Linked DNA regions of Homo sapiens: region 1 is linked to region 2. The links come from fine-mapping of genetic effects on gene expression. A gene starts in region 2. The other region holds a variant in brackets. All regions are shown on one strand. Distances are between the middles of the regions.

Region 1 (5,358 bases), 37 kb after region 2:
TGTCCAGGGCCTCTGGGTGCCTCAGGGCCGTGGGCATGGCTTGAAGTCTCTGGATAGCCCATGAATGGATGTGGGCCCGGGAGGGGTGTGAGGTTTTGTGGGCTCCCTGCCAGCAGCCAGTGTGTAGGGAACAGAGACTGTGGTTGCTGCGGATGGAGGGACCGCTGATGGTGGCTTTGCCTTCTCCCCGGCAGATCTGTATCTTCGTCGGGGAGACGCTGCTGTTTTCTAACTGGGCCATCACTGCAGACATCCTCATGGTGAGCCAGGCAGGCCGAGGTCACCTTGTGCTGCTGACCCAGGCCTCTTGACCTCACAGGGGTGCCTGGGGAGGGCGGGTGAAGGGGCGGGAGAGCTGGTAGGAAGGCAGGCCTGCCAGGAACGTGAACCCAGAGGCAGGGAGGGGATCAGAGAGTTTGGGGTCTGCCTCTGGCCAGGGCTGGAAAACAGGGTTGGGCAGGCAGACAGAGCACCATGTGGAGACTGAGGGGGAGGGGGCATCTCGAGGCTCAGGTTAGTGGCTGGGAGGCTGGCGGTGCCAGGCTGGCACTGAGGTGGCGCTGCCTGCCCGCCCTCCTCCCCCCGCTGGGTCTGAGCATCCATAGGCTCTGCCCTCTCTACTCAGCCTGGCTCCCAGGCGTGCCTGCGGCTGGGGCTGGGCGGACAGAGGCTGTCTTCACAGGGCCAACAATGGGCTCTAGCCCAGCCAGCTGGGGACAAAGGGCTGTCTTGAGCGGCCAGCAGGGGCTTGTGTCCCTGGGTGGGGATGGGAGCACCCTGGGAGGAGCCAGGAGTGGAGCTAGGAGTTCATGGCCCTCTGGGCGTGGCAGGGGTGAGTGTGACACTTGGTCCTGTGCCCAAGGGTCAGCCTGGCCAGGGTCAGGAGGGGACAGGAGAGAGTGTCTGGGAGGTGTCAGGGCAGGCTCTGGGGCAGAGAGGAAGGACTCGGGTGGATTCTCAGGGTGCCCGGGTTTGGGTGCCCCAGCATGGGACAGCCCGGGAGATGAGTGTGCCAGGCACTGCGGCCCCTGCACTTCGGGAAGCCTGCCTTACCCCACCCTGAGCCTCCGGGCGTATCCGCTTCCCCCTGGGGTGGCTCTGTGTCCTCCCGAGTCCATGGGCTGCGGTGGTGGTGGGGAGGCCTGGCGCAGTTCAGAGCCTCAGCACGGAGCCAGGCGGTGGCAGGGGTGCGCCAGGGTCACTGCACAGGCCCAGAGTGAAGGGAGGAGTCCGTGCAGATTAAGTGCTCTTGGTGCTGGGCAGGACCCCCTCTCCTGCCTCCACCCCCAGGGAGCGCCTGACAGCTGCCGGCAGGGTCAGGGTCCCGGGGAAATCGCGTCCCGGTTTATTAAGTGTAACAGTTTATTCCTGCTGGAAACAGGGCCACTCGTTTCATCAGATTCAGGCCCTTTTCCACCCGCCCCCCACCTCTCCCGCAACGGGGTGCCCCGTGGGTGCTGGTTGCTTGCACACAATGCCCACTAAGGCTGGCACTCCAAAGAGGCGAGGCAGCTGGAGCTCGGGGAACAGGGGCTGCCTGGGCACCCACAGAGCTGGCTGTGCCTGTCCCGCCCCCACCCCAGCCCCTCCTGTCTGACTCTGGCCTGCCCAGCTTTGAAGCCAACCTCCTGTAGGTTGGGGCCTGCTTGGTCTGATGGGGGTCTGGGGCCCAGCAGTGCCGGCATTTGGTGCTGAGGGTGCCCGCGGGTGCGAGCGGAGGCTCTTGCAGGCAGGGGCCTGCCTCACCAGCTCCTGTCCCAGGCCAGTCGAGGCCTGGCTTGGTCCTCAGGGAGGGGAACCAAGATGGGTCTTTAGCTTGATGGGAGGTGAGGACAAATGGCTGTGGCGGGGGTTCAGGTTCCCTCGGGAACATGTGCCTCTCTAGACCTCAGTGTCCCCGTGACCCAGGTCCAAGGGCAGAAGCCAAGGCACCCTGGTCTCAGGAATGGAGCAGGAGCCGCGCTGGAGAGGCAGCAGCATGGCCGTTCCTGATGGCTCGGGTACTCCGAGGCTCGGAGGGCTCTGGGCTAATGGCCTCTAGTGACTGGCGCCTGGGCAACCCCCAAAGTATCATTCCTTAACTGCATGTAGCTGGGAGGGAGGTGAAGATTCCAATTTCAGAGGGGTGTGCTGGGGGCACAGCAGGTTTGAGGCCAATGACGCTTTCAGTATGGGGCAGGTCGCAGTGGTCTGGGTTGGAGGTGTGGAAGCCCCTGGGGTGAGGGTGACTGCAGCTGTGTGTGGGTGGGAGGGGCTCAGGGAGGAGAAGGGTGACTGGCAGGAGAGAAGCAGCCAGGCTGGTGGGGTGGGCAGTAGAGGGGACTGTGGGGAGGAGGGCAGGGCCCAGGGGAGAGAGGTGTCAAGACGTAGGGCAGGAGTGAGTCTGAGGGTGTGGGGGCTTCAGAAGTGCCACGGCCCGGGGCCAGGGCCAAGCGCGTGAGCCTTTCTCCTCTGGCCGCTGACCTGCCCGCCTGTTCCGCAGTACGTGGTCATCCCCACGCGGCGCGCCACTGCCGTGGCCTTGCAGAGCTTCACCTCCCACCTGCTGGGGGACGCCGGGAGCCCCTACCTCATTGGCTTTGTGAGTAGCCCCGGGGTGGGGCTGGCCAGGGCAGGCTGGGGGACTGCAGGAGGGCTCTGCCCTGACATCCACCCCCAAATCCTCGCAGATCTCAGACCTGATCCGCCAGAGCACTAAGGACTCCCCGCTCTGGGAGTTCCTGAGCCTGGGCTACGCGCTCATGCTCTGCCCTTTCGTCGTGGTCCTGGGCGGCATGTTCTTCCTCGCCACTGCGCTCTTCTTCGTCAGCGACCGCGCCAGGGCTGAGCAGCAGTGAG[T/TGG]GGGGGGGAGGGGAGGCCCTGCTGCACCGCCGGGAAGCAGGGACCGTGATAGCCACCGTGAGCCCTGCCCTGGGGTGGGGCGGGGAGGGTACAGACCTCCCATGCACTCAGTGCACCCACTGGTTGCTGGGGTCCAGCCCTGAGGCCCAGTGCCAGGGTCAGCCTGGAGCTGTGGGAGGCCACGGGGGTGTCTGGTGGATCCAGACTTGGGTTTGTCTCTGGACTTAGTGGTTTTCAAAGCTGGGGCCCCTCCCCTTCCTCTTACTTTCTGACTTCTTTCTCCTTTCCTCTTTACTCCTCTCTCTCTCCTCTCCCCACCCCTGGGCTCTCCCATCTCCCCCTGGGGCTGACGAGGTCCCTGCCCAGCACCTCCGGTCAGCTGGCCCCCACGACACGATGTGCCAGAGCAGTGCCCGGGCCCGGCCCCCGCTGATGCACCACCCTGACCCCCGCCCGTCTCTCCCCCAGGGTGAACCAGCTGGCGATGCCGCCCGCATCTGTGAAAGTCTGAGGTGGTGAGTGCAGGCCGGGAGGCACGTGGGGGCTCCCTAAGGAAAGGGGAAGGCCAGGGTTAGGCAACAGGGAGCACTTTTCCTCCAGAGTCACCTCCTACCCCAGCACATCCCACCAACTCTGGGCTTTGTCTCTGAAGATGTTGCCAGAATTTACTGATGGAGCCATGGGTGGGACAGCAGGCTGCTCCTTCCAGTAAATTAGCTCCCCTTTCCTTCCTTTCAAGGGCTGGGTGGGGCCTCGCATAGATCAGGGCCAGGACTGGCCAGGAACTCCTCACTCTGTCCGGACTTCTGTTCTCCCAAATCCTCCTGGATGTACCAGGGCCTGACTCCTTGGCCCTTCCCTCTGGGAGTTATAGCTTCCCAGCAGCACGAGACCCAGGGTCACAGCTGCAGGTCCAGGAGAAGGCTTGCGTCTCCAAACAGCAAGAAAAGGGAAGGAGGGAGGGCAGCCTTGGCACAGGCCCCACTAAGCCCCACTGCTGACCTGACACCCCTTTCCCCAGGTGCCATTGGGACAATGAAGAACCCACACTCCCACCTCGTCTGGGAGGTGTCCTACAGCGTCCGGGACCGGCTGGGCTGCCCCAAAGCTTTCTGTGTGATCCACGGCTAGGCACCCACCCTCTCTGGCCCAGGCCTGCTGAGTGGCCCTGGCATCAAGAAGAGGCTGTGTCCTCAGTTACCCTGGAAGGATGTGTGTGTTGGAGCCACACGGTTGGACAGGTTCCCAGCCCTAGGTTTGGGCCGCAGGGCCCCTGGGGCCAAGGAAGAAGACAGCCCCAAGTGGGTGTCCGGGGAGAGCCTGGCCTGCCACCAGCTTATGTGATCTTGGGCAAGTCCCTGCCCTCCCTGGAACGAAGGGCCAGGGGGCTGGACTTTCCCACACAACTTGCTGGGCAAAGCACGATCTGCAGCTTTGAAGACTCAACAGACCCTGGACCATACGGAGAGCAGGTGGCCCAGGCCTCAGGGCGGCAGTCCCGGCTTTGAGGCTCACGCGAGGGCCTGGTATGCAGGGACCACTGCTCAGCTGGGCCTCGGACCTTGGGGATATTGGACGCAACCTGGCAAATGAAGCTGGGCGCCCAAGTCTCTGGGTACTCCCTGGAGGACACTGTCTCACTGTCTCGGGTTGGCTCCCAGCCTGGAGGTCCCAGATGGGGACTGTTCTGACAAGCTGGCATCACCAGGGGTGAAGGCCCTGGCTGCAGCTGTACACCACCTGTGCCCCCAGGCTCAAGGTCTCTGGCAGGTGCACACCAGCCCAACTCTGCAGGGCTTCTCTCCCTGCCACCACCCCCCAAGCCAGGACCCCACTCCTTCCCCGAGGCTGAGCTGAGCCTTTTCCAGGGGCAGGGCCCAGGAGACCATTCCCAGAATCCATGGGGCAGTAGCCAGGGCTCCGGCTGCTGGAGGAAGCAGCTATCCACAAAGCTTCCTGCCCCAGAGCTGAGGCTGAGGCCCCGGGAGAGGCGGCCCCTACCCAAACACTGGCTGCTGGCATTCCACCAAGTGACCCCAGGGGGGGGCCAGGCCTTCGATCACCCACCTCCCATCCATGCACACACCAGGATGCAGCTGCCAACTTCACACCAGCCCCAACCCGCTTTGGGGGAGCTTAGCCCCCTGCGTCACCCACTCCCTGCACTTCTGCTGCAATCAAGGTGGTTCTGGTGCGGGGGTGGGGTGGGGGGTGAGGCCTTGTGGCCAATGGGGGACCCCCCAAGAGCCAGCTTGGACAATGCTCTTCTTGCCCCTTAGTTACTGGCTGGCTGTGGCTTCAGTGGTGTGTAAGCAGGTGGAATACTCACCCACCAAGCTCTGGGGTACCCCGAGGGCCTGACAAGAGGATGGGGTGGGGGTGGCATCCTCCAAAGACCAGCCTCCACCCCCACTCCAGCCTCAGCGGGGCCCCAGCGATGTTTTCTTGTTGTACAAGAACCAGGTCCGAGTGTTGCCTCCTCTTCCTTCCGGAAGCCAAACTGCTCCTTTATTTTTTAGA
Region 2 (5,358 bases):
TGGTCTCGAACTCCTGACCTCAGGTGATCCACCCACCTCGGCCTCCCAAAGTGCTGGCATTACAGGTATGAGCCACCACGCCGGCCCCCATTTGTTTTGAAGCTGTGATCTAGACCTAATGAATGAATATCAGAAGGTCCTTTAGCCACGGAGTTCAGCCTCCTGTTATACTGATGAAGAAACAGAATCCCGCCCAGTCTGAGGGCAGCGTGCAGTGGAGGAAGTGCTGGATTAGAGGGTAAACACACCTGGGTTTAGTCCATGCACTGTCATTTACCAGGTGTTCGACCTTGGGCAAATTACTTCTTTTCCCTGGGCCTCAGTTTCTTCATTGGCGAGATGGAGGAAAGAACCCTACCAGTCCTCTGTCTGACAGCCCCAGGTTACTGCCAGAGCTTCTCAGAAGGCTGTAGGGATTTGTCCTGGGCTGCACAACCAGAAAGGGCTTCTTGTCCTCCCTGTCCCTCTGCCCTTGGTGGCCCCTTATCCCACACAAGGACTTATTCTAGAGGCTGCCTTTGAGTTGAAACCCCAGTGAAACACAGTGGGAAGGGCTGGCTTGCTTGGTGGCAGCTCAGAGGTCCCCCAGGTTTGAAAGGCTCATGCCACCCTCTTCCCCTGCTCTGGGACCTTCCCAGTGGTGAAAAGGGAAGGCAGCAGAAAGAGAATGCTCCCCTTTCTGTCAAGGCCGAAAGTGTCCACCTGGACAGGACTGTGGCCAAAGGGATGAGGAGTTTTGGGGCACGGGAAGGGGACCCTGGGCTTGGGTCTAGAGTTGTGGTTGTGCCTCCTTCACCACTAGACACAGTTCCACAGCTGGGCAGCCTCCCACAGCTGGACTCTGTCCACCTGCTGGCACCATCACACACTTACGAGATCATTGCTGGGGCCGGGTTCTAGCCCCACGGAGCTCCTAGCTCTCTGTCCTTGTTTGTTAATCACCCGTCATGCCAGGCCACCATGGGGAACTCCCCCCATCCGCCTTTGCAGGCCTGAGCTCAGCGAGCTGGAAAGAGGCAGCAGGCAACTTTGAGAATGAAATCTGTTTTCCTAACCCTCCCGTCACAGTCATTCATACCCAGCACGCTGAAGCATATTTTTAGTCACTTTGCAGAATTTAAAATACACCTCGAAGGCGCCAAGAAACACCAGCTTGGGGATTAACTCTGCTCACAAGAGACAGTGGAGGGGGGCGGGGGGGGTGCCTCGTGCTGTGTCACCCGTTGGCTATGCCATGACTCACTGTGGCCGAAAGCTTCACCAGATGCACCTGCCTGTGGACGTGGGGTCCGGAAAAGCCTCTAGCGGGGAGTGAGCTCCAGCCCTCGGGGATGATGCCAGAGCCTGGGGCAGCTCCAGCCCTGCCACAGCTTCACTGCCTGTTCGTAATGGGTCACGTCCGTGCCCTGGGACTTGTCTGTGAAACACAGGGAATGATTAACTGGTTTCCGAGGGTTTGTCCAGTTCTAACATTCTGTCCTCTGCACTTTATACAGGATTTTAATTTCGATTTTAATTCCCCAAACAGGTGAATGGGGGAGGGAAGGGGGAGATCGTCACAGAGCCACAGCACCTCTAAGGAGGGGTGAAACCGTGATGGGATGTCAGGAACACAGAAGCACCCCAACCACTCTCCATAGGAGGCAGACCCCCGCCCCGTCCCACCAAGGGGAGGTGACCACCCGTGGATTTCCAGACTGAATCCCATCCTGCCATCTGCCCCCAGATACAGAAATGGAGGCCCAGAGAGTGGGTGTCATGTTCAGGATCATGCCACACACCAGGGCAGAGCTGAGCTAGGACCCAGCCTCCTGTCTGCCACTGGGGGCTTTGTACCCTCTCTAGCACATACCTGGAAGTCTGAAGCTTGGAGATGTGGTCCCTCAGGAGGGAAAGCCCCTTCTGAATATCCTGTTTCTGTTGGGCCCCAATCACAGCCCTTGCTCTCCCCGCCAGGGGCTGCGGGCCACTCTGTGGGGCAAGGGTAGGGTCCGGGTGCCCACACAGGAATGGGCCCGGGGTAGGTTGGGGGCTGGATCTGGGTTGCCCTGGGGAGGTGGGAGACACAGCCCACCATGACTGGTGGAGGTCTAGGTTCTGGGCCCTCCCTGAACTGGTTAAATCCGGGCGTGTGAGTATCGGAGGAGCCACCGGCTCTCCAACTGGCGCCCCTGACTTTAGCCATCTGAGACTCCTCTCTCCAGTTCTCCCAGATACGCTAGGCTCAAGCCCTCAGCCCGGCTCCCAGAGCCTCCGCCGGGAGTCCACGCCCGAGGCAGGGGTTGGGTGAAGGGTACTGAGTAGGTGCTGGGAGCCCCGTCACCAGCACCCTGCTCCCAGCTCCGTAGCCAGAGCAAACCCTCTCCCGCTCCCCGCGGGCGTTCGCGGCCGGTCGGCCCCGGCGTGACTGCGCCCCCATTGGCAGGAGGGGCTCTGCCGCCCGGGCCCCCAGTCCCCGGGCCCCCCACCCCCAGGGCAGCACGTGCGGGGCGGGGCTGTGGCCCGAGCCCGGAGCTGATTGGGCGCGGGCCTGGTGGGCGGGGCCGGGCCGCAGCTGTCAGAGCCGCGGCGGCGAACGAGGCGCAGCGAGCTGAGCGGTGGCAGCGCCGCAGCCGGGGCCGGAGCGCAGGAGCCGACGGGGCCCGACCAGGATGGTGCAGTGGCGGCTCCGCGGCGCACGCACGCGCTGAGCGGGCCCAGCCTGGGCCCCGCGCCCCCCGCGCCCCCCGCCGCCCCGATCCGGGCCGGCATGATGTGCCTGGAATGCGCCTCGGCGGCGGCGGGCGGCGCGGAGGAGGAGGAGGCGGACGCGGAGCGGCGGCGCCGGCGCCGGGGGGCGCAGCGAGGGGCTGGCGGTAGCGGTTGCTGCGGGGCGCGGGGCGCGGGCGGCGCTGGAGTCTCGGCCGCGGGCGATGAGGTGCAGACGCTGTCGGGCAGCGTAAGGCGGGCCCCGACCGGACCCCCCGGCACCCCCGGCACCCCCGGCTGCGCAGCTACTGCAAAGGGCCCCGGCGCTCAGCAGCCCAAACCGGCCAGCTTGGGCCGCGGGCGGGGGGCAGCCGCCGCCATCCTCAGCTTGGGCAACGTGCTCAACTACCTGGACAGGTACACCGTGGCAGGTGAGCGAGTGCCCCACCCAGCCCGAGGACCAAGACCCCACCCCATCCCACCACCCGCCTCGAGGGAGGTACCCCAGAGAGCTTTTGGTCTCAGGCCTGCTATCTCCAGGCCCTACGTGAGGTCCCTACGGACCCTCTGCTCAGGCACAACTGGGCAAGGGATGCCTCCGTGCACCACGGGTACAATCCAGCTCCCCGCTCATACACACCCGGGGCCAAGGGATAGAGGAGTCCCCACCCCTGGAGCAGCCCGCGCGTCCTCTCCAGCCCTTGACGGCCCATCCGTTGTCCTCCTCTCCAAGAGTCTCCTCTGCGTCTCTCTGTCTCCTTGTCTCTGCGCCCCCTCCGACCCCAGCTGCCGGTTCCCGGGCCTCCTTCCCTTCCCTTCCCCCAGCCCAGGTCGTCTGTCCGTCCATGGCCCGTCAGTTCCTTCCTTTCTCCGCCGCCTCCACCCCCCTGCGTGCGTGCGGCGAGTGCGCGCGCCCCTTGCGGGTGTGCGCTAGGGAGACCGGGTGTGTGTGCGCGTGGCGGCGCGGTTGTGTGTGAGCGCGTGGCTGACAAAGGCTCCGGGCTGCGGGGAGCGGAGGGAGGGGCGGGGCGGGTCCGCGGCGCCTGGGGACCCAGGCTGCGGTTTGCAGCTGGCCCTGTACAGAGGCCTGGAGACGCCTCCCCCTGCTCTATGGTGCTTGGGGTGTAGGGTAGGGCGCAGGCCTCTGGAGCTAGAGACGTGGAGCCTCATCCTCAGGGAGCATCTCTGGGAATCAGCCTTGGGGACGGGATTGGGATCGATAGAACAACTGGGTTCTAGCCCCAGCTTTGCTCCTAATGTGCTTGGTGTGTGACCTTGGGCCAGTCTCAGCGTGTGTTTAGGTCTGTTTGCCCGTTTGTGAGTTGATTGATCATTGGGCCTTTGGGGGACGCACGTGGTTCTGGAATTGCCTTCTGCTGGCTCCCTTCCCCAGCAATTAGGGGTGGGTCTAGGGGTAAGAATTTGCCCTAGACTGAGCTGCTACTGGTTGGGAATGGTGGAGCTTTGAGAGGGAAGGACTTTGGCCAGACTGGCATAGGAAGGGGCTCCCTGCAGGAGGAGAGCAGTACTGTGTGCCTGGCATGCTGGCCCAGAACCTGCGTAACTATAGCTTAGTAAAATCTGGAGCTATCAAACACACACACAACAGAGAGAGAGAGGAGATAGGAGAGAGGGAAGGATTTATTTTTGGACAGACTCTAAAGAGAACTTTGCGGCAATTGAGGGAAGAGAGCCCGGGCATAAACCACATGCCACCTGGTGCCTTCTCTGGGCCTCAGTCTCCCCGTCTGTTGAATGGAGTTTTGTGTCAAATGGAAGGGAAGAATTCTGATGGGAGGGCAGAGGCTTCCCCCTCCCCCCATTCCTGCTTTCAACCCCCCTTGGCTCTCTGTCCTTCCGCTGGAGGAAATTGGAAGTGGGTACCAGTGGCATCAGTTTCTGGGTCGAGCTATCCCAAAGAGAAACTTACTTTGGTCTAGAGAGCAGGAATATTGAGCACCTCCCAAAAACGCCAGCCGCTGTCACGCATGCACCATGCTGCCGGGGACCTGGGAGCATAAGCGCCATCCTTTGGGGGAGAAATCAGAGAATACCTGGGACCTGTAGTCAGTTCACAAAAGGCTTCTGTACACAGATAGGGGGACCAATGTCCCTGTACAGCCCCCGTTCAAGATGGCCAGGAAAGTGACTGGCAAAGCTGGTGTTAGCTCTAACAGTAAGGCTCTGCCTGGGAGGAGGTCTTCCCACCCTTTCTCAGCTGAAGAAGGAATGGTACTACTTCTGGCACTGTAGCGCTCTCCAACTTGTTTTTTTTCTGGCCCCAGACCACCCCCTTTGACGTTCTTAGGGGAACTGCCTCTGCCAGGGGCAGAGCCAGAGAGGGTGGGATCAGGGAGGGCTGGCACTTATCTGCTCCCACTTCTACTCAGGTCTCTGAGTCAGATTGTCAGCATGGGGGAATGAGATAGGAAATTTGTGGTGAATTGGTAAAGGGAGGTGGGGAGTGGTGGCTAAGAGGGGCGTGGGGCAGTTAGGGAGGAAGGCCCGGAAAGTCCTGTGCAAACACTTGCCTGGGCTGTGCCTCCCTCCCTCTCCTGGCCTGGAGTGGGAGCTCACACACCACCCCACCCCCAACACACAACAGACACAGGTTTCCTCTCCGGATAAGCCTGGTTGCCCCTCTCTCTATGGTAGATTTCCCCATCTCCA

Evidence for each region. PIP is the estimated chance that this variant, and not a neighbour inherited with it, causes the effect.
Region 1: its variant is fine-mapped to the expression of SPNS2 in cerebral cortex (GTEx, PIP above 0.99).

The regions. Positions count from the first base shown.
Region 1 is chr17:4,533,594-4,538,951 of GRCh38, forward strand. SPNS2 (SPNS lysolipid transporter 2, sphingosine-1-phosphate) reads left to right here. Exons shown (of 13, transcript NM_001124758.3): 9 at 195-260; 10 at 2,483-2,581; 11 at 2,670-2,833; 12 at 3,307-3,353; 13 at 3,860-5,358. The coding sequence ends at 3,349. MYBBP1A (MYB binding protein 1a) reads right to left here. Exons shown (of 26, transcript NM_014520.4): 26 at 5,311-5,358. Among named protein-coding and RNA genes, the nearest start is that of MYBBP1A, 19 kb to the right of the region's middle. The variant T/TGG (reference allele first, on the strand shown) is at 2,839.
Region 2 is chr17:4,496,299-4,501,656 of GRCh38, forward strand. SPNS2 (SPNS lysolipid transporter 2, sphingosine-1-phosphate) reads left to right here and starts at 2,583. Exons shown (of 13, transcript NM_001124758.3): 1 at 2,583-3,119. The coding sequence starts at 2,750. It overlaps SPNS2-AS1 (SPNS2 antisense RNA 1), which reads right to left and starts at 2,437. Exons shown (of 3, transcript XR_001752763.2): 1 at 1,853-2,437; 2 at 1,244-1,417. RefSeq lists silencers at 2,376-2,435, 2,446-2,595, 2,656-2,705 and enhancers at 2,747-3,382, 3,383-4,017.